5 separate regions of the Homo sapiens genome follow, and regions 2, 3, 4 and 5 are each reported to be linked to region 1. Evidence: microRNA targets listed by miRTarBase, many of them from high-throughput screens and not tested one by one. Region 1 holds a microRNA gene; each other region holds the end of a gene's coding sequence. Distances are between the middles of the regions.
What was found. The annotated mature microRNA hsa-miR-6809-5p reads UGGCAAGGAAAGAAGAGGAUCA and lies in region 1 at 2,023-2,044, opposite strand. An mRNA with a match to its seed (bases 2 to 7 or 8) in the 3' UTR can be bound and repressed. Matches are read on the target gene's strand: a 7mer-m8 pairs with bases 2 to 8, a 7mer-A1 pairs with bases 2 to 7 and ends in A, and an 8mer does both.

Region 2: miRTarBase lists ZIK1 as a target of hsa-miR-6809-5p. Seed matches in the 3' UTR shown: 7mer-A1 at 2,476-2,482 and 7mer-A1 at 3,495-3,501.
Region 3: the mRNA of TMEM182 is a reported target of hsa-miR-6809-5p. Seed matches in the 3' UTR shown: 7mer-A1 at 2,888-2,894.
Region 4: miRTarBase lists LIN54 as a target of hsa-miR-6809-5p. The part of its 3' UTR that is shown has no 7-base or 8-base seed match.
Region 5: the mRNA of PCSK4 is a reported target of hsa-miR-6809-5p. Seed matches in the 3' UTR shown: 7mer-m8 at 443-449.

The regions. Positions count from the first base shown.
Region 1 is chr2:217,898,580-217,903,174 of GRCh38, forward strand. It overlaps MIR6809 (microRNA 6809), which reads right to left and starts at 2,049; the gene lies at 1,934-2,049. TNS1 (tensin 1) reads right to left here. Exons shown (of 33, transcript NM_001387777.1): 7 at 1,884-1,933.
Region 2 is chr19:57,590,157-57,594,751 of GRCh38, forward strand. ZIK1 (zinc finger protein interacting with K protein 1) reads left to right here. Exons shown (of 4, transcript NM_001010879.4): 4 at 1-3,734. The coding sequence ends at 1,119. Among named protein-coding and RNA genes, the nearest start is that of ZNF530, 7.4 kb to the right of the region's middle.
Region 3 is chr2:102,813,618-102,818,212 of GRCh38, forward strand. TMEM182 (transmembrane protein 182) reads left to right here. Exons shown (of 5, transcript NM_144632.5): 5 at 1,131-4,062. The coding sequence ends at 1,351. Among named protein-coding and RNA genes, the nearest start is that of TMEM182, 54 kb to the left of the region's middle.
Region 4 is chr4:82,924,494-82,929,088 of GRCh38, reverse strand. LIN54 (lin-54 DREAM MuvB core complex component) reads left to right here. Exons shown (of 13, transcript NM_194282.4): 13 at 786-4,486. The coding sequence ends at 987. Among named protein-coding and RNA genes, the nearest start is that of THAP9-AS1, 26 kb to the right of the region's middle.
Region 5 is chr19:1,479,132-1,482,179 of GRCh38, reverse strand. It overlaps PCSK4 (proprotein convertase subtilisin/kexin type 4), which reads left to right. Exons shown (of 15, transcript NM_017573.5): 15 at 1-752. The coding sequence ends at 421. C19orf25 (chromosome 19 open reading frame 25) reads left to right here and starts at 2,965. Exons shown (of 3, transcript NM_152482.3): 1 at 2,965-3,017. RefSeq lists an enhancer at 2,799-2,918.

The sequences.
Region 1 (4,595 bases):
ACTCCTGCCCTTTGTTCCTTGGCCTTCTCCCCACCTCTGGCAGCTCCCACTGCCTGCCAGAGCTGCTTCTTGGCAGCAGCCTCCCTGATTTCTAAGGGCCCAGAAAACAAGAGGGCACAGAGCCCTTGTTGCTGCAGTGGCGGGCAGCCGCCAGCACCATGCGTTTCCCGGAGAGGTGGGGAGGCCCCTGGGCTGGCCATCCTCTCCACTGGGCACTGGGTGAGGAAGGGAGGGGCTCGCATCTTTACATCTCTCCCAACTTTTCTTCCAGAGGAAGGGTCCAGGATGCCCACTTGGGAAGCCCACCTCTTGCTTCTAGAAGCACCTCCCCCATCCCTCCAGCTTTTTCCCCAATCATTGACCTCCTAGTGTCTCGCTTCCCCCTCTATCAAATGCAGGCAGCACTGACATTTCATTCTGCTAACCTTTCACCACAGCGGGATAAAGTGGAGAGTGGAGGGCAGCGAAAGGAATACCACTGGGGTATTTAAAAGTGATGAGGGCTCTCTGGCACTAGACAGAACAAGCCCCCAGATGCTGAGAAGCCATGAGGAATCCAGACCTCCACCAGGGTTCAATCCCAGTCCAGGTGGGGTGTGGAGATGGGGCAGCCAAGGATGAGGCATGGCAGGACCTCTCTGTTGGGATGACAGGGGCCTGAGTGGGACTGGGGACCAGCACCCAGAGGTAAGGAGCCCGGTTTGAGTTTGACTCTGAGTCCCAGCTACTTCTTGTCCCTATGGAAAGCTTCTCATTGCAGCTGTGGGGGAGAAGTTTCTATCTCAAGCCAACTGCCTACCCAAGGACAGTTCTTGTAGGTGGTGACCAGTCTGGGACAAGAAGCCACACGCACACATACCTGCAAGCAAGTGGGTGTGAGGGCGGGGAGCCTCAGCTAACTTGCAGCATCCCCTCCTCCCCATCCTCCAAAACCCCTCTCTGTTCTGGCTCCAAGGAAGAAACTAGAATGTCAGAAAAACTCGCAAGACAAGCTCCTGTGATTTCAGCCTCTCCCTCAGCACAGGAAGGGGAGCAAGAGGGGCCGTGCTGGTGAGGGCCATGAGTCAGACGTGGCCCATCTGGGGCACTGACCCGCCCCTGTCTACAGGCTGGATCCCAGGAAGGACGCAAATGCAGAACAGTGCCACCAGCCGGACAGCCTCAGCATCACACTCTGCATCCACCTGCCCAGGTCTAAGGGAAGGAGGGGATCCTCTAAGGAGCCACCTCCAGTCTGTGGACAGCTGGCAGCTGGGCCAGAAACTTCCAGGGGCTTCAACTCTACTGCAGGGCTGGCATCCCCAATCATCTCAGGAGCCTCAGTGGGTGAAGGTGAGGCAGAGAGGGCAAAACAAACTCTCTGGATCGCCAGGACACAAAGTCCCTTGTGCATCCCCTTCCCCCGGCCCCTGCCAGCCCAGCCAGATAGGGAACTTCCCTTTCATAAATGACTCTGCCCAGTCAGAATCCTGTCTGCAGAGAGGAAGAGATCCAGCACAGGCCTCAATGCTCATCAGCCCTAAACGCAAATCCAAGTGCTGCCTCTTGGTGGCTGTGTGACCTTTACAAGTCACCTCATCTCTCTGAAATGCTGCTCTACCAAAGGGAATAAAATACGTACCTTGCGGGGTTGTTGCAAGGACTAGATGAGCTCATGCAGGTAAATAAAGACTCAGCTCAAGGGCTGGCTAAGAGCTCAAAACACAACTGTTGCCAACGGCATCCGCACGCATCCTCTCCTGTGCCTTTCACGTTTGCCCACACTCCCCACCCGTGGCTTTATGGCTGCAGTCCGGGGGACCCAGAGGCAAGACTTAACAGGGACACCCACAGTGACCCCCCTGCTTGCACTCCCGCCCCCTGCCCCCACGGGCCAGGCATACCTGATGGGCTGGAGGTGGGGCTGGACACTCGGGGTGACCCTGGTGGAGCCCTGGGAAGGAGAGAAGAGAAGCAGCATTATGCAGGGGTGGGCAGGATGGCAGGAGGAGCACACCAGAGAGCTGTCCACGGGGGCAAACATGATCCTCTTCTTTCCTTGCCAACATTCTGGCCCTGCCACCCTAACCCCTGCAAAAACACAGCCTGCCCGAAGCCAAAGCCATCAACACTGATTCCACGTGAGTGTGCCTGCCTGTGTGCAAGCCCCAGAGGGACAAAAGGAAGAATCCCGAATGCTGAGGAGTGCACCCCACTGGGCTGGTGCCATCCACACTGAGGGCACACTCAACAGTTACTGAATCAATGGAAACACACTTCACTTTGATACACTCGCCAACACAAGAGAAACCCCAGGAGGAGAATACGACTGCCACCACAAAAGGAGCGATGAGAGTAATGGCGCCCCTCTGTCTTGCCACCATCACCCCACACTTCTCTGCTTGAAAGCTGTAACATCAAGTCATTCAATTGAGTTTAGAGACCAGAACAGGCAGGTGGAGCATGCAGGAACCAAGACGAGGCCTAAGACAGTGAGCCATGCTCCTGAGGGCCCACTCCCCACTGTCTGTGGCAGACAGTAACCATCTCACCCACTCCCCTTTTCACAGCTGTCGAGTGGTACAAACTTAAGCAAATGGGCCCAATCCATCCCAGGGCAGCAGGATGGCATGGCGGGTGTGAAAGCACAGGGTCAGAGGCCCACAGACCACAGAGTTTGGATTCCAGGATCCTGCTGGGCAGCCCTGCCAGTTACTTAACCCCTCTGAGCCTCTTGTAATGTCACATGTAAAATGGGACAACCTTCAGGCTGGCAGTGAGGATCCAAAGGAGTTATGCATATAAGGCACTTCGCATCATGCCTGGTATTTACCAGATGACAGCTGTTGTTTTTGTTGTTACTTTTGTATCAAGAAAAATGAAAAGGGTAGTTACAACCAAACATTCACCTCTATAGAAAACCAACACCCTGCATCGCCTCTACCCATCCTTCCAGTCACCTCACAGGATGCAGAATTGGGAAGGCCAGTTTCTAGATTCTCAGACCTCCTGAGCCCATTGACACCTTCCAAACACCCATGTGCCTCTCAGAAAATGGTCTTTTCCTACCGCCAAGTTGCAGCCTCTTCTTTAAAGAGACAGGACCACAATCTGCCAAGAAAGGAAGAAACTGAGGCACAGAATAACTTACCCTCAAGTCCCTGGGAAGTTGACGGCCAGGCAGGATTCACACTCCAACCTGGGGCTTGACCACGGGGTCTCCAAGAAGAGGAGCCCCTGCACCCCTCTCCTGGCTCCGCAGTGCCTACGAGGCAGGATAGGTGGGTTCCGAGGTCCAGCTCCCAGCTGAGCCCCAAGTTAGAGCAGCTCTGCTAAGAGGGGGACCCTCCATCCAGCTGTCCGGAAGAAGGCTCTGCCCAGAGTCCCAGCTGCCTCGGACCAATGAGCAGCTCCTCAGCAGTGAAGGAGGGAAGAGCCAAGTGGGGCTACTGGGGGGAAGTTTCTAAGTCTCACAGCTCTTCTGGCCCTGAGGACTCCAGTTTGCATGAGTCAAGCTTGGGGGTGGGGGGATTAGACAGGGGTGGAGCTGGGAGTCAACGAGTGACTGTGTTTGGTTTTCAAGACCCAAACCAGGCTGTTCCAAAACTGCCCCCTCAGAGGAACACAGAAACCCAACAGTTCACCCATCTCCATTTCACTGGTCCCTAATGAGGAGTCCCTGAATCTCCCCAGGCCCTAGGCCCTGCTCCAGGCCCCAGGGCCACCCTGCTATAAATAGCCCCTTGAGTTTCATCTGTTGCTGATCCGTAGCCACTTTTGGAGGAAGCCACCACAGCTGCTTTGAACAACTGGAAGCCACAACGGTAGCCAAGACGTGAGGTGTGGCCAGGAGCATGGGACCAGACCCAGGGAGCTGGAGAAAGACAATGGGCCATATTGATATGGGCTTGGCAGGGGGAACTGGGGAACCAAGGGGGGCCGGGAGCCTGCAAAGGTGCAGGGGTAAGCAGGACAAGCAGGACAGGAGACCTGGCTCCCCTTTCCCCACCGCCCTCTTCCAAACATTACAACACTCCACATTCCTCAGCCTCCCCACCCCAAAAAAAGCCAGTGAAGATAAATAAAAACTTGGCCCAAACAGAGTCTGGCCAGGCCGCCTCCAGAGGTGATAAGGCAAAGTCCAAGCCCGCTCTGCTCCACCGGGCGGGGAGGGGAGGGGAGGCATGGGGAGGAAGCCACCCTGGACAGTGACCCCAGTGCAGAGGATGGGGGACGAACAGCTGGGACTGTCATCCCCTGATGAATCACTGGGCTGCCCTCTCACTGACGGGGCTTCCTGTTTTCTGCAAAGTTTGGGGGCACGTGACCCTTGCTGGCGGACAGCAGACATGCACGGTGACACGTCTGAGTGTCGGTACACACAGACAGACAGAACTCAGAGAACAACAAATGGGCTGGGGCAGGGGCACGGCATGTCAGCAAACACACCCTACTGCTCCAGAAACACAGGTGACCTCACACGAGGCTAGAGATGGTGCCTTTGGAAGCATGCCTCATCACGTAGGCTTTTTACAAGCACAGTGGGAGTAACACAAGGCATCCGGTCATCCCTGGGCCTCCAATCTTCATGCTCATTCTCTCATTCAGCAAACATC
Region 2 (4,595 bases), not on the chromosome of region 1:
GCTGATCTCCCTGGGCAGAAACCATACTTGGTTGGAGAATGTACAAACCATCACCAGCACCAGAAGCATCACAGTGCAAAGAAATCCTTGAAGAGGGACATGGACAGAGCCTCATATGTGAAGTGCTGCCTATTCTGTATGTCATTGAAGCCCTTTCGCAAATGGGAGGTTGGAAAGGACCTTCCAGCCATGTTGCGGCTTCTGAGGTCCCTGGTCTTTCCTGGAGGCAAGAAACCCGGCACAATTACTGAATGTGGGGAGGACATTCGCAGTCAAAAAAGTCATTACAAGTCAGGTGAATGTGGGAAGGCTTCCAGGCACAAACACACTCCTGTTTACCATCCAAGAGTCTACACTGGAAAAAAGCTTTATGAGTGTAGCAAATGTGGGAAAGCCTTCCGTGGCAAGTACTCACTTGTTCAGCACCAGAGAGTCCATACTGGAGAAAGGCCTTGGGAGTGCAATGAATGTGGAAAATTCTTTAGCCAAACCTCCCACCTGAATGATCATCGGAGAATCCACACCGGAGAAAGGCCTTATGAGTGCAGCGAATGTGGAAAATTATTTAGACAAAACTCCAGCCTTGTTGACCACCAGAAAATACACACTGGAGCAAGGCCTTATGAGTGTAGCCAGTGTGGGAAATCCTTTAGCCAAAAAGCCACCCTTGTTAAACACCAAAGAGTTCACACTGGAGAAAGGCCTTATAAGTGTGGTGAATGTGGGAATTCCTTTAGTCAAAGTGCCATTCTTAATCAACACCGAAGAATTCACACTGGAGCAAAGCCTTATGAGTGTGGCCAGTGTGGGAAATCCTTTAGTCAAAAAGCTACCCTCATTAAACACCAGAGAGTTCACACTGGAGAAAGGCCTTATAAGTGTGGTGACTGTGGGAAATCCTTTAGTCAAAGCTCCATCCTTATTCAACACCGGAGAATTCATACTGGAGCAAGGCCTTATGAGTGTGGCCAGTGTGGAAAGTCCTTTAGCCAAAAGTCTGGTCTCATTCAACACCAAGTGGTTCACACTGGAGAAAGGCCTTATGAGTGCAACAAATGTGGGAATTCCTTTAGCCAATGCTCCAGCCTCATACATCACCAAAAATGTCATAACACATAGAGGCCTCATGAATGCAGCAAATGTGGAAGCGCCTTCAACTCAAGATCTATCATCATTTAGCTCCTGAAAGTCCACACTTAAGTAGAGCCTTAGACCTACAGGGAAAGTGCTGTCTCTGTAGTATTGTAGCAGTAGAGAGCCTTTGTGAGGGAGCCATCTGCCTGAAGTTGAACCTCATTCTTCCTTGTTTCTCTGGTAGAAACCATCTACCCTCTACCACCTTGCACAGTGGGCACTGGTCACTCCTATGTGCTAAGACAAGGCAGACATCTGTGTGTTCTCTTAAGTCTTTGGAGGAAATCTTGAGCAGTCTAAGCCTTTAGAGAAAATTCATTCTTTTTTCTGACTGATCACAGCATACGTGTGACCCAGTTTGGGTCAGGAGGGCCCAGCCTTGGTTCTGCTGGACACTTATGTGCAAGGATTCCCTTCATGTAAATTCTTGGTCTCACATGACACTTGGTCATTCTTCCAGCCTCCATGTCACCACGTGGTGAATGGCTGCCTCACATTGCTCCAGTTTGTGCACTAATAAAAGCCTTATATTTGAATCTACCTGTAGTCTTGGGGTTCTGTTTACTGTGTGGGGTGGCTGGGAGACAGACTTCAACTCTATATGAAGGAATGGATGGCTTTTGTGGGCCTCTGCAGGAAAGTAAGATGACAGAGTAATTCTAATTCTGGTTTTGGTCATACTTGCTTTGCTACCTAAAATCTCCTAGGAAAAAATGCAAGGTTTTGGTTATTCTAATTTGTGGCCTGGATCCCTATTCTTTCTGTGAGACTAGAGGTCATCCTGAGGAGAGGCCAGCTGTTATGACAAGCATGTGTGCTTCAGGGAATAGGACAATTTTATTCCATTGTTTCCAGAGGATGTCATATGATGCCCAGTGCTGCTGAGAAGCTTTTCATGGGGTTCTATAAGGAGGCATGCCCTGATATCAAACATTCCATAGGCCGATGTCACGCAGAAGACAACGCGAGTCACATGTGAACTGTAATTGGTACAGAAATACCTGGGTATTTCTGTACTGTGTGTACTGTAGCAAACTAGTTGGAATGTGCCTCTTATAAAAGTACATTTACAAATCTTCCCGTGACTGTGGCTTTGAGCAGTCATAGGACCTAGAAATCTGTGTATGTCCAATAGCTGAGGTTATTTTCAGCAAAAATAATTAAAGGGTTTTATTTTTTAATTCTTGTTGGTTTTCTAGGTTGTTCACCTCAAGTGCATTGCTGTAGAGGCAGAAAAAGGAGGATAAAGATAACAGAAGTCCTATAGGCCAGGGATGTATTGATAGCTCTTGTGATTTCCACCAGTGTTGCTGTTGTCTCAAATTGCCACAGCCTTCATTGCTTGCCAACATTTCCTGCATGGAGGGACTCATGGTTGCCCTTCCCCAGGCCTGAAGAGAGAGTGCAGTCAACATGAGATTGCTAGGCATTCTGGTTTCTGAAAGTTGGGTGATCAGATACTTTATTGTGAAACATGTTTTACAAACTTTCTTGATGTGTAAGTGACATGCCATAGTTTACATCCATTTATGGTGTATAATTTGAAGAGTTTGTCATACAAGCCTGTGAAACCATAATCATGATCATGAACATATTCATGATTCACCTCTTGCTGTTTTACAATCTCTGCGTGTACTTTCCAGGCCTTCAGGAGTCCTGTCATTTACTTTCCCTACAGGAGAATAGTTTGTGTTTTCTAGGATTTTATGTGAATTGAAACGTAAAATACTTACTCCATTTTTCCTGATGATGCACAATTTTTTTTTTTTTTTTGAGATGGAGTCTCAGTCTGTCACCAGGCTGGAGTGCAGTGGCATGATCTTGGCTCACTCCAACCTCCTCCTGGGTTCCAGCGATTCTCCTGCCTCAGCCTCCTGAGAAGCTAGGACTACAGGCATGCACTACCACGCCCAACTAATTTTTGTATTTTTAGTAGAGATGTGGTTTTACCATGTTTGCCAGGATGGTCTTGATCTCTTGACCTCGTGATCCGCCCGCCTCAGCCTCCCGAAGTGCTGGGATTACAGGCGTAAGCCACCACACCAGCTGATGCACAATTACTTTTAAGATTTATCAATATTGCTTATGTGAATAGTTCATTTGTATTGCTGAGAAATAGTCTGTGGATATGTCACAATTTGGATAAACAGTTGGATGCTTTCCAGTTTTGGGCTGTTGCAAATAATGCTACTATGAACATAGGCATATAACTCTTAATATGCAGAAATGCTTTATTTCTCCTGTGTCAGTAGTACAGTGTACGTGAATGCGTCACTTTTAAAGACAAGGCCAGACTATAACCTAACTGTACCATTTGCATTCTCATCAACAGTATGTGAACCTTCTTATTTCTCTACATTCTTGCCATACTTGGTATGGTTAGTCTTTTTAATTTTAGTTGTTTTAATAGCTGTATAATAGCATCTGTCTGTGATTTTATTGCATTTTTCTGGTATTTTATGGTATTGAACATTTGAACATCTTGTATCTAGTTGCCACCTGTATATCCTCTTTGGAAGAATGTTTATTAATGTCTTTTGCTTATTTTTAAATGGATGTTGGTGATACTTTTTCATTAATAAATAGACGTATAACAAAGACTTATGTTGAAACTTTACTCATTCTTCAGTAATGTGATGCACTTATTTGCTAAATGATAAAATTGTTTTCAAATACTGGGAAAATAATTTCTCAGTTTTTTGGTCTATTCACAGTGTAACAACTACAGACACTATATACCTGAAACACTACCTTCATTGACAAATTCTCCATCACTTTCTTAGGTCTAACCATTCAATGAAACAAATAAGCCCTGGTTTTTAATATTTGCCAATTTCCCTGGTAAAATACTCCCACCATGGCCAATTACAAGGTGTCAAAATAATGTCACTGAACATGAATTGAGAAGAAGTGGGTAGCGTCACACCACTGTATTCTACTTTCACCATGCCAATACAGTAGCCGCAGATAACCTGAAGATCATGTATGTAGGAACCATACAGCCTGTGGTGTGGCAAGACTGATGCCATCTTGAAGTGAAGCTGTCATGGTCACCTATGTTCTGAAGCAGTAGCATAGATATCATCAAAATGCTTCTCTCCCCCAATGGTCATGAGTCTTGGCAAGAAAGTCTGAAGACGTGAAGAGCTGCACGTTTTACCCTAAAAACTCCAGGCCGGGCGTGTTGGCTCTTGCCTGTAATCCCAACACTTTGGGAGGCCAAGGTGGGCAGATCACGAGGTCAGGAGATGGAGACCATCCTGGCTAACATGGTGAAACCCCATCTCTACTAAAAATAGAAAAATTAGCCGGTTGTGGTGGCTTACGGGTGCCTGTAATCCCAGCTACTTGGGAGGCTGAGGCAGGAGAATCACTTGAATCCAGGAGGTGGAGGTTGCAGTGAGCCGAGATCACGCCATTGCACTCCAGCCTGGCAACAGAGCAAGACTCCGTCTAGAAAA
Region 3 (4,595 bases), 120 Mb from region 1:
CAGCGGACCCTGGAGCCTGCTGCTCAGCGTAGTGGCATTGTTTCCTTCTGGCAATTACGGTAACAGTTACATGGGAAAGGACATGCTTAGTGGTATTCTCCAGTTTCAGGATTCACAGAGCTTTTCTGTCACTTGTTAAGGTCATGGGTCCAAAACTGTAATACTTCATCTAATTCCAAGAGTGTTTGGAACCAGTGGATTACAGTTACGTTGTAATTGTTGCTAAATTGGGATGTTGCCCTCTAGTTAGTGGTTAGGCATTTGTTATTTCCCTCCCTCTGTCCCTCCTTCCTTCCTTCCTCCCTTCCTCCCTTCCTTCATTCTCTCTCTTTCTTTTTTTCTTTCATTTAATATGGCTGTTGATCTCTAATCCATGATTTTATATTACACAAAATCTTTTATCATCAATCTTCCTCCCTCATTTATTCAAGACAATGTTTTCTCTATGCTGTAATCAATCTTTAGTGTGTATATATATATATATATATTTAGATTCTGAAGAATCACGTATATTCTTTTATGTTTGTTCAGTGTTTTCATCTCCGTTCTTGTCTAGTGCTTACTTTGGTTTCTATTTGTATAACCATATTTAATTGCAGCATTAGTTAGCTGGGTTATAATAGTATAACAAGAGTCAGAAAGACCCGGGCTGAAAATCAGCTCTGAAAACCACTGTCTGTGTCTGTGTATATCTAAAACCAGGTGGTAAGTGTACCTATTTCAATGTTTATTCTATGTATTGAAAGAAATAACATAGTATAGTGCTCATCCCAAACCATTTGTGCAGTAAAAAAGAAAAAAAAAAGTTAGAATATAAATTCTACAAGTGCTGAGATATTCACTAATGTTCACAAGCACTTACTACAGTCCTTGGCACCCAGGAAACACTCAATAAATACCTGTCAGTGATTGCTGTTCTTAGGCTACTATAGCCCTCCTCTCAATGCTTTGAAGATGAAAGATAAAAGAAATATCTATAAAGTACATAATAAAAGGTCTGACGTAGAGTATTTGATTTTGCTAGAAATGTATTTGCAGGAGCTTGTCATCCGGTCAATGATTGGTTTAGATAGCGTTCTTGAGAAAACATCTTCAGAAAGGCTAACAGTCTTCTGTTTCATCCTTCTCAGGCATCCTATTTTCATTGGTGGTGATGCTGTATGTCATCTGGGTCCAGGCAGTGGCTGACATGGAAAGCTACCGAAACATGAAAATGAAGGACTGCCTGGATTTCACCCCTTCTGTTCTGTATGGCTGGTCATTTTTCCTGGCCCCAGCTGGGATATTTTTTTCTTTGCTAGCTGGATTACTATTTCTGGTTGTTGGATGGCATATTCAGATACATCACTAAATCAACTGTTGCCACAAGTATTTTCTTGAGAGATTTTAAAACAAGGAATACTTTTTTTCCATTTTGTTTCATTGATCCCAGCATAAAGTTAGTAGATATAACTTTTTAGTTGCTATTCAAATTAATCATTTTACTAAAATTTTCTTCAGTAAGAAGGTCCTAGAATCTCTCCAGACACCAGCAAGCCTCTATCTTGTCTAAGTGCTGTCAAGGACCTAGTTCTTTAGGGAATAGGTAAACAGGTCTCCCTTTCATTGAACATGTTAGAGTTCATGCAGGTCGCAAAGGCCTGATAATAGCTTAATACCATGACATGGGGAAAATCTCGATAGATTTGGCTTAAAGTCTCCTTGGCATTCACTTCTGCTAATTAAAAAAAATCCTTGAAGAATAATTAAGAATGGGCAAGGTTGTCAGAGAATTTATTTTGTTTCTTGCCCACACAGATAATATCCACATACACATTCACTGGCTCTTGTGAGCAAATGAATTTAAAAATAGACAGCAGTTGTTCTAATTAGTGGGAGCCATGTACTCACCAGTTAAAATGGGCCACAACAAACAAGACTGAGAGCATGTACTTATCTTGCTTTTTCACCAACAGTGGTTTGGTTACCTAGTTTTATTCACTTAATTGTGCATGCTTACATAAACTTTAAACTACATTTAAAACTAGCAAATCTGCATACCAAATTATGTATAACGTAGATTGAATTTTTATGAACTTAAAGTGAGTTAATTGTATAATGTAATATTGTTTAAAATATGTAAAAACCAAGCATTTCCGCTTGGTCCATAATTCTATTTGATATTTTAAAATTCTCATTTAAAAATTATATTGCTATCATTCAGCATGTGAAAATTTATTGATAAAATGTGATTTTAATATTTTTTAGATATAAACTTTCAACGTACTTCCATATGAGGATTATAATAGCCCTGCTTTATTAAAGACCATAAAATATTAACTTTCCCCAAGATGTTATGGGTTCCAGTTCTTCTGATCATTTGATTCCTTTAATTACTGTCCCTCAATTTCTTCATCTTTACAATAGATATATTAACATTTACAGATCGACTATTTCCTTTAACCTCCTAGAAGAAAGTTTTTGTGGGGAAAGATGATTCTGTATTATTCAGTAGCATAGACATTTTGCATATCAAAGATGTTCATTTGGCACTAATGTTGATTGAAATCAAATCCATCTGAGATGCCTAGCTCGTATTTGCATTCTGGAAGCCTCCATCGCAGGGGAGCTCGGCAGGGTATGTGAGCTTTGTTGGAGGTGCGGTGTTTCATTCTGCAGCTGTTGTGAGGACAGAGAGGCATGGCCCACAGGCAAAAAAAGTCACCACCCAGAAGATGCTCTGGGATAGAGGAACTGCTCCTTTTCATCAGCTCTTCCAATGCCGTGGGAGAGGTGATCCCAGTCTTCTCTGTACATCTTGTGCTTTTCCATTAAGACTTGTTCCAGTGGGAAGGAGCTTTGGAAAAATTGCAAAGGTCTGAATCTTCAGGGCATTTTCATGACAGGACTTGCCAATAATAATAATAATAATAATAATAATAATAATAATAAAGCTCCAGAGGCCTAACTGGTTTCTCAAGTCATTTCAGTGATATCATTGAAACGTTTTTGTGGTACTTCCCTTTGTCTTTCACTGTTTCATTTTTATATTGCTTCATTTACTTCTTTGCTTTTGGCTTTGTTATTAGAAAAAATAATTATGAGGTCTGTTGTGCATGTTGACTGTGATATTAAGTTATGGCATGCCATTAAGTTTTCCAGACGATGTTGGATGTATCTGATTAGTTCATGTCATCTGTAAATACAATTCTTTTTTGTAGTACTTTGGAATGGAGCCTTTTTCTGGTGTACTGTATGCCATTTAAGTTTCACATACAAGCTGCTTTCGGCAAAGGCTTGAATATTTATAAATTTCAGATGGTTATCCTCACTTTATAGTACACTTAAGTGGCTACCATATATTTTTTATATGACAATTGGCTGAATAGCTGATGTGTATGACACTTTTACACAGATTTGCACTTTGGAACTATTTTATAGTTGTAATGCATCAATCAAATACATTTCAAGCACATTTCTTGATCAATTTACCAGCAACCCTCTGAAGGAATGAAGGAGAGTTGTGATTGCTATGTCAATGAGTGAAATATACTTAAAAATGGCAGAGTTATATAGTACATTATTGTAGCAACCTTATATCTGATTTGAGATACTGTGTTGCCAAATGTCCATGTTATGTTTATTTCTCTATTGGTTGTATTTATTAATTTTTAGAAGCCTTTAAACTGTGTTAGAATCTTTTTGAAAAATGTTGATTTTGCATCATAAAGTTTCAATTTATCAAGGATATCTTTTCAGTTACACTTTTAGAAAGAGTGAATAAAAAGGGCAGTGAGTTATGCTCTTGGACTTGGTGAAAGCTATCATCTCTCCATATTGTATTTGTTCAGCTGGTTTAATTCACTCAGGTGGATGATTGCACATACATTGGAATTGGCTGGAGAGACTACACAGAGAAGTTTAATGATCGTGTACAATTTGAGGGTTGATGGTAGGGCTTTCTAAAAAAAGTAATATCAAGTGTGTTGTTAGTATTCATTTAGTCATTTTTATTACTAATCTATAAATATATTTATTAAATTTGAAGATTAAATGGAATTATAAAGGAATATATTGGAGGAAGTGTCAGTGTTGGTAATTATTCATCTATTTATCTGTCTATCATCAATATATATGGGTGCATGTCTGTGTATATTTGTGTGTATGTAAGTGTGCATGTGTATTATATGTTTGGGTAGAAAGAGATACATTGAATGGTATAAATCAATATATTTGAGCTAAGCAAGTTAAAAAAAAATCAGTTATCTTTGGGAACAGCAATCTATTATTGTTGTTTCCCTGAGTGCCACTTTAACTGTTTCACTCAATGGATGGTGGTTTATTCAGTTCAACACGTAATTTGATTTCTATTTTCTTAAAAGTAACCATGTTGGACTTACAAAGAGACTTAGAATGTCAGAGGTGTTAGGCAGATATTGGATACCAGTAAAATTGGCTGGATATGTCTGAAGGTCGGTGGAATTGTGAGAAAGACCAATGGTGATGGGGTTACATTGAAGAAAATATAAGATGAGCTAAATCAAAACCAGATTTGATTTTTTTGGGACTCCACCAGAAGTGGAAACTCATAAACAAGAGATGAAACAGAAAACTAC
Region 4 (4,595 bases), not on the chromosome of region 1:
TTTAATTTCAGACTTCATTATTTAGTATACTTCTGTTAGTGACCGCTTACTCACAGGTTGTTGAGTTAGTGGTTTAGATTATGTTGCTTGACTTAATCTGTCACAGGCTTTAAGACTTGAGTTGGCTGCAAATATAGCAAGCCTCACGATGGGTTGCTCCAATTTAATACTCAATAGCTCAGGTCTTTATGAATGCAACTCTGTGTACAGAACATTTGGTTTCGCCATTTTGTTTTGTTGTGCTAGAACGATGCAGAATTTTGGAATGTTTTCTACAAACAGTATCAGTGACTATGGTAAAGTGCTTTATTTTTCATTTTGCCGAAGAGATAGTGCTGTCAATTCCCAGTATTATTCATTCATTCAGCAACTATTCATGTAGCGTCTCTATGTCATGCACTATTCTAGGCACTGGAGCAACAGCAGTAAATAAGAATTGAACTTACAGAGCGTACATTCATGATTTAGGAGGATTTTAGTTAAAGAAATTCTAGTCTTCGTGTAGACTATTATCTTTTAGTTAACCACATAACCTTGCCTAGGTAATAAGTAACGTGTTTTATGTTAAATTTCCTGAACAATATTCTTACAATATGTGAATAAAACCAAATTTAACTTTTTAAAGCCCTTTTTAGGATGTGCTTGTGCTCACTGTGTAAATTGTGATGCTCATCCTGCTGGTGAATTGTGAAAGTGTCAGTAGAGATTTCCAGATGAAAGAATGTTATCCACTTTTGTTGTTATTTAACACCACCATCATCTTTCTCTTTCAAAAATCATTTCAGATTGCCATTTACATTTGTAACTAAGGAAGTAGCTGAAGCCACATGTAATTGCCTCCTTGCCCAGGCAGAGCAGGCAGACAAGAAGGGAAAATCAAAGGCAGCAGCGGAACGGATGATACTTGAGGAATTCGGACGATGTTTGATGAGTGTCATCAACTCTGCAGGAAAGGCAAAAAGTGACCCTTGTGCCATGAATTGCTAACTCTTGCACAAAAGACTGATAAATGGAACTGTACAGAAAATTTAAGGTGCAGGGACACTTGATTTTCTGGAAGAAAAACAATTACTGTATTTTAATTCAGTCCTTGTTTTAAAAGACCTGAAATTATAATACTGAAGGAGAAGAAATTTTAAATGAGGAAATTAGTACATTTTAAATCTTAGTTAAATCTGCTTATGCCCCTTCTAAATTGAATTTTTCTTTATTATATAGATTTTTTAATTTGCTTGGGTTTCTTAAGAATTAGATGTTCTCTTTCTGATACCTTTGACAAAAAATGTTTATAAATTCATATAATTTATAATGTATGGTGTTGTATGACTTTGTTAATAGAAAAGCCAAAGCAGCAGTGGTTAGCACCCATTCTTTGGGACTTGATCTAGAATATCTGCAGACAGAATGTTACATAAACAAATTCTTATGAAACACATTCAAATGACATTTTGTATTTAGAAAAGGACTATCTTTTAAAGAAAAAGCAGCCTTTTAGGGCCGATTCTGGAATAATATCCTGTTGTCACTTTGGGAATGTCAGAAGGGGAAACAATCCCCAGGCACACTAAAAATTTTTTAAAGTTATTTAAAAAAACATATAAAATATTAAAGGACAGTAAATCTCAGAGGATGGGCAATGTGTTTCTATAATAAGGAAAGGCTAACAGATGCTCTGGGCTGTCTCCATTTTCTTTCAAAGAGGTGGTATGTATTTGAAGTAATAAATTGTCAAAGTGATTACTGGGTACTATTAAAATGATAGGTGGATATAAATGGAAGTAAACATTATGTAGTGATAATATAGAACCTCACATAGTAATCAAGTATAAAATTTGGCATGGGTGGAGAAACAAAGAATAGGGAAGCTGCAAAAGATGAATTTAGAGAAGTTTTCATCTATACAATCAATTATTTTTACAGACTTTTTTTTTTTTTTTTTTGAGACGGAGTCTCGCTGTGTAGCCCAGGCTGGAGTGCAATGGTGAGATCTCAGCTCACTGCAACGCCTCTGCCTCCCAGGTTCAAGCGATTCTCCTGCCTCAGCCTCCCGTGTAGCTGGGACTACAGGTGCATGCCACCATGCCCGGCTCATTTTTTGTATTTTTAGTAGAGACGGGGTTTCACCGTGTTAGCCAGGATGGTCTCGATCTCCTGACCTCGTGATTCGCCCGCCTCGGCCTCCCAAAGTGCTGGGATTACAGGCATAAGCCGCCGTGCCAGGCCCTTTTTATAGACTTTTGAACTAAGAGGTTTCAAACCAAATCGCAACTCTTACTTGATTTACAGAAATGGGCCTCCTAACAAAATTTTCAAAATTGTGGTGGGATTTCTTTTTATAAGGGAAGTTTAATATGGCATTATTTTCAGCCAGTGATTTGGAAGGTCTGTTTTCCTATAATTACTAAAATAACCTAAATCATTTTCAGTATTCAAAAACTCTATGAATTTAAGAGCCTGTTGTGACAGGACTCTTGATTTTATGACAAGAAAAAACCATGTTGGAATTCAGGCATTTTGTTAGGTACCTTAATCATCAGTAATTAGTATATGATTATTTCATTTCCTACAAGGACTCTATAGTTGTATGTATTAAGTGTGTATATATGTTCATATGAACATGCAAGATATAGGCAATAGAAATTAAGTAATCCAAAAGAGGATTCCGTTATTCACTAAAGTATCTTCCTTTTAAATTTGGATTTATAAAATCATAGTGCAGTAACTTTAAATGTAGATAGTTCAAACATTCTTAGCACCTCAATCTAGTATGTTTAATTAAAATTTGTATAAATGTAAATTAGTGTAAGAGGGTAAAATAATAATCAAGTTATTTTTCAAAAGATTGCAATAAGTTTTTGGTCTAAACTTAAACTTTGTTCATTTTGTACATACTCTGTGTTAATTCTAATTGCACCTTTGTGATGTGTATTTATATACAGTGTGCAGAAAATGTTCGTGAAATTTTGATTACAATTGTAGATTATGTATGATGGCATTGCTTACGAATGTTTTGCTTGTAAAAAAATTTCAAGGTGCAATCAAATGCTACTAGTTTTTCTGATTTTCAAAAATCTATCTATCTAAAATATTAAGCCTTTTCCTTCCTGTGTAGTACTTACTAAATAACTTTTTGTATTCAGGCATTTGCATCAAATTGCTGAACAAGATGAATAGCCACATTAATTCAATGATTTTAAAAGACTATTTGGGGAGGGTTGGGTATATAATTTTTTAGCTCTATTTACATCCCAAAGTAGAAAGATTAAATTTATATTTACTAGAGCTATTCAAAGAATACACTTTTCTATATTGTAAAAACAGGACAGCAAAGTAAATCATACAGAAAATAAACATTTATACTATTCTGTAAAAAAGGTTTTGCATTTTTTCTTTAGTATAATAACACCACTTTATTAACCATTTAATATGCAAAAAACCTTTTAAATTATCTGAAGTAAATTTGACATTACTTCTGAAAACACACAACTAAAAAATTCTATCATTTTGCTCAGTTATTACTAACATAAATTGCTTTGAAATGAGAATATGTCTTCTCTTTTTTTCCCCACTGTTTCTTTTAAGAGCAGAAACTCAGCCGGGCATGGTGGCTCACGCCTGTAATTCCAGCACTTTGGGAGGTCAAGGCGGGTGAATCACTTGAGTCCAGGAGTTCTAGACCAGCCCAGGCTACATGGTGAAACCCTGTCTCTACTAAAAATATAAAAAAATTCACTGCGTGTGGTGGCGCACACCTGCAGTCCTCGCTACTTTGAAGGCCTGAGCCTGCAGAGGTTGAGGCTGTAGTGAGTCAAAATTACACCACTGCACTCCAGCCTGGCAATCAGAGTGAGACCTTGTCTCAAAAACAAAAATACCTAGAAAATCAATCTACTCTGTCTTTTAATGTGAAATGTTCTTATGATAGCTATCTTTCTTAGTTTCCTTTTTTTCTGAAGCACTAAACACAACCTGTAGGTCTTATCTCTGGGGTCTGGGAAACAGAACCTTAATGTTACAGGTACAAAAGCAAACAGAGTGATTAGTTCCCCATTTTCTGGTAGTGAACAACTGACATTTTTTCAATCTTATGTAAAATGTGAATAAAAATAATTTTAGAAAAGTTATCTATTTTTATTGTTCTGTAACACAAATAGTTAAGAAAATGAATACTTGTTATGTAAATGAAGCTTCACAGCAGGACCTCCGGCCATAACTTTGATCATGTTGTATCTCTTAAGCATTTTATATAGGAATTCTGGTGTGGCTACCCAAAGCAGAAGGGAAGGCAATCAACTAAAAATCCCTTTCTATTGGAGTTATTTTCATCATGTAAATTACTTCAGGCTTTTCTTGTTAGGGCTTCTTGAATGCACATTTTGTCATTATCTGTATACCAAAGGTGAGCTTTTTTTTTTAATCCATGTGATTTTATGAGTTGAAAGCTATAAGGTTTTTTTTAATTAAAAATTTCCTTCTAAATGGCAAATTTTGTGACAGCATTTAAGACACTCAGTTTCTATTCAAAAGCAATAAGAAAACAAGTATGTTTAGGGTTATGTTTATTATAAGGTCACTGGGACTTTATAAAACTGTCA
Region 5 (3,048 bases), not on the chromosome of region 1:
ACAGCTCTGCCTGGCCTACTGCCCCCCGCGGTTCTTCAACCACACAAGGCTGGTGACCGCTGGGCCTGGGCACACGGCGGCGCCCGCGCTGAGGGTCTGCTCCAGCTGCCATGCCTCCTGCTACACCTGCCGCGGCGGCTCCCCGAGGGACTGCACCTCCTGTCCCCCATCCTCCACGCTGGACCAGCAGCAGGGCTCCTGCATGGGACCCACCACCCCCGACAGCCGCCCCCGGCTTAGAGCTGCCGCCTGTCCCCACCACCGCTGCCCAGCCTCGGCCATGGTGCTGAGCCTCCTGGCCGTGACCCTCGGAGGCCCCGTCCTCTGCGGCATGTCCATGGACCTCCCACTATACGCCTGGCTCTCCCGTGCCAGGGCCACCCCCACCAAACCCCAGGTCTGGCTGCCAGCTGGAACCTGAAGTTGTCAGCTCAGAAAGCGACCTTGCCCCCGCCTGGGTCCCTGACAGGCACTGCTGCCATGCTGCCTCCCCAGGCTGGCCCCAGAGGAGCGAGCACCAGCACCCGACGCCTGGCCTGCCAGGGATGGGCCCCGTGGAACCCCGAAGCCTGGCGGGAGAGAGAGAGAGAGAAGTCTCCTCTGCATTTTGGGTTTGGGCGGGAGTGGGCTGGGGGGAGAGGCTGGAGCACCCCAAAAGCCAGGGGAAAGTGGAGGGAGAGAAACGTGACACTGTCCGCCTCGGGCACCGCGTCCAACCTCAGAGTTTGCAAATAAAGGTTGCTTAGAAGGTGCTCAGTCTGTGGCCTCCTCTGGAGCAGGGTGGGCCCGAGGCCCCAGGGCTCAGGTGGTTTCTGCTTGGGGTCCCCGGACATCAGTCCATGGAGAATGCAGCCGGCCACGGAGAAAGAGTCCGCCCAGGCCCAGGGACCCCAGGCAGTGGGAACAGCAGGGAATGGCCGGGGGTCAGCAGTAATGTCCAGCCCCAGAACATGGCTCACCATGGCCCAGAATCCTCTCCTGCGGTGATTCCTTTGTTTTTTTTCTTGTTTGTTTTGAGACAGGGTCTCCCTACGTTGACTAGGCTAGAGTACAGTGGTGCGATTGTAGCTCACTGCAGCCTTGAACCCTGGCCTCAAGCAATCTTCCCTCCTTGGCCTCCCAAAGTGCTGGGATTACAGGCGTGAGCCACTGTGCCTGGCCCTTTCCTCCCTCCCTCCCTTCCTTCCTTTTCTTTACTTCCTTCCTTCTTTCCTTCCTTTCTTCCTTCTCTTTCCTTCCTTTTTTAGTAGAGATGGGTTTCACCATGTTGGCCAGGATGGTCTCGATCTCCTGACCTCGTGATTCGCCCACCTCGGCCTCCCAAAGTGCTGGGATTACAGGCTTGAGCCACCGCACCTGGCCCCTTCCTTCCTTTCCTTTTCTTTCTTTCTTTCCTTCTTTCTCTTTCCTTTTTCTTTCTTCCTCTTTCTTTTCTTTTTCTTTCTCTCTCGCCTTCCTTTCTTCCGTTCTTCCTTCTCTTTCCTTCCTTTCCTTTCTTTTCTCCCTTTTCTTCTTTACTTTCTTCTCTTTATTTCCTTTTTCTTTTTTTTCTTTCTCTCTCTCCTTCCTTCCTTTTTCTTCTCCTTCCTTCTTTCCTTTCTTTCTCTTTCTTTCCTTTTCCCTCTCTCTGTCCCTTCCTTCCTTCCTTCTCTCTCAACAATATTTTTTTTTTTGAGACAGAGTCTTGCTCTGTCGCCCAGGCTGGAGTGCAGTGGCACGATCTCGGCTCACTGCAAGCTCTGCCTCTCGGGTTCATGCCATTCTCCTGCCCCAGCCTCCTGAGTAGCTGGGACTACAGGCAACCGCCACCATGCCTGGTTAATTTTGTTTTTCTTTTTGTATTTTTAGTAGAGACAGGGTTTCACCATGTTAGCCAGGATGGTCTTGATCTCCTGACCTCGTGATCCACCCACCTCGGCCTCCCAAAGCGCTGGGATTACAGGCGTGAGCCAACACACCCAGCCTAATTTTTGTATTTTTAGTAGAGACGGGGTCTCACCATGTTGGCCAGGCTGGTCTCAAACTGGCCTCAAGTGATCTGCCCGCCTCGGCCTCCCAAAGTGCTGGGATTACAGGCATGAGCCACCGCGCCCAGGCTGAATTTACAGTTTAAACAGGCGAATTTGGCCGGGCGCGGTGGCTCACGCCCGTAATCCCAGCACTTTGGGAGGCTGAGGCGGGCGGATTGCCTGAGCTCAGGAGTTTGACACCAGCCTGGGCAACACAGTGAAGCCCCATCTCTACTAAAATACAAAAAAAAATTTTGACGGACGTGGTGGCGGGCGCCTGTAGTCCCAGCTACTCGGGAGGCTGAGGCAGGAGAATTGCTTGAACTCGGGAGGCGGAGGTTGCAGTGAGCTGAGATCACGCCACTGCACTCCGGCCTGGGCGACACAGTGAGACTCTGTCTCTAAAAAAACAAAACAAAACGAAATAAACAGGAGAACTTTATGGTATGTAAACTGCATCTCAATAAAGCCCCTGAGAGAGGAAAAGGGCCCTCTGCTCTTTCTGCCTTCCCAGGCATCAGCGGAGAGGAAAAGGTGACCTCCAGCACCGTCCCCGAGGTGGGAGGACCCGCCTTGGCCGGAAGTGGAGGCGCCGCGACCGCCCCGCCCCCGCTGTGTTCCGGCCGCCGAGTGCTCATGCACCACCAGGCTCCCTTAGGTGGACAGCAATTTTGTGCTCCCGTCAGCCACATGGGTGGCGTGTCCCCTAGTGCCGTGTTCCCCTTTTCAGAAAGACGAGCCTCGGATGCTTTTCTACCCAGCCAGTGGAGCCTGGACTCGAACTCGCTCTCATCGTAGCGCGTCCAGGTTCGGGTTCGCCTGAGAGGCTGAGATCCGAGTCTCAAGGGCACTATCCCTTTAAGACGGGGCGGAGCCCCGCGATGAGCGGCGGGCCGGCGGGAGAGGAGGCCGGAAGTGTGTGTCACGTGTTCGGGGACGGGGCGGTGCTCCGACCGGAATCGGAAGTGGCTGCGTCGTCGACGCTGGGCTTTCGGGTCCCGCGCCCAGGTGGGAAGAGGCCGGCGACTGGGGTGACCGC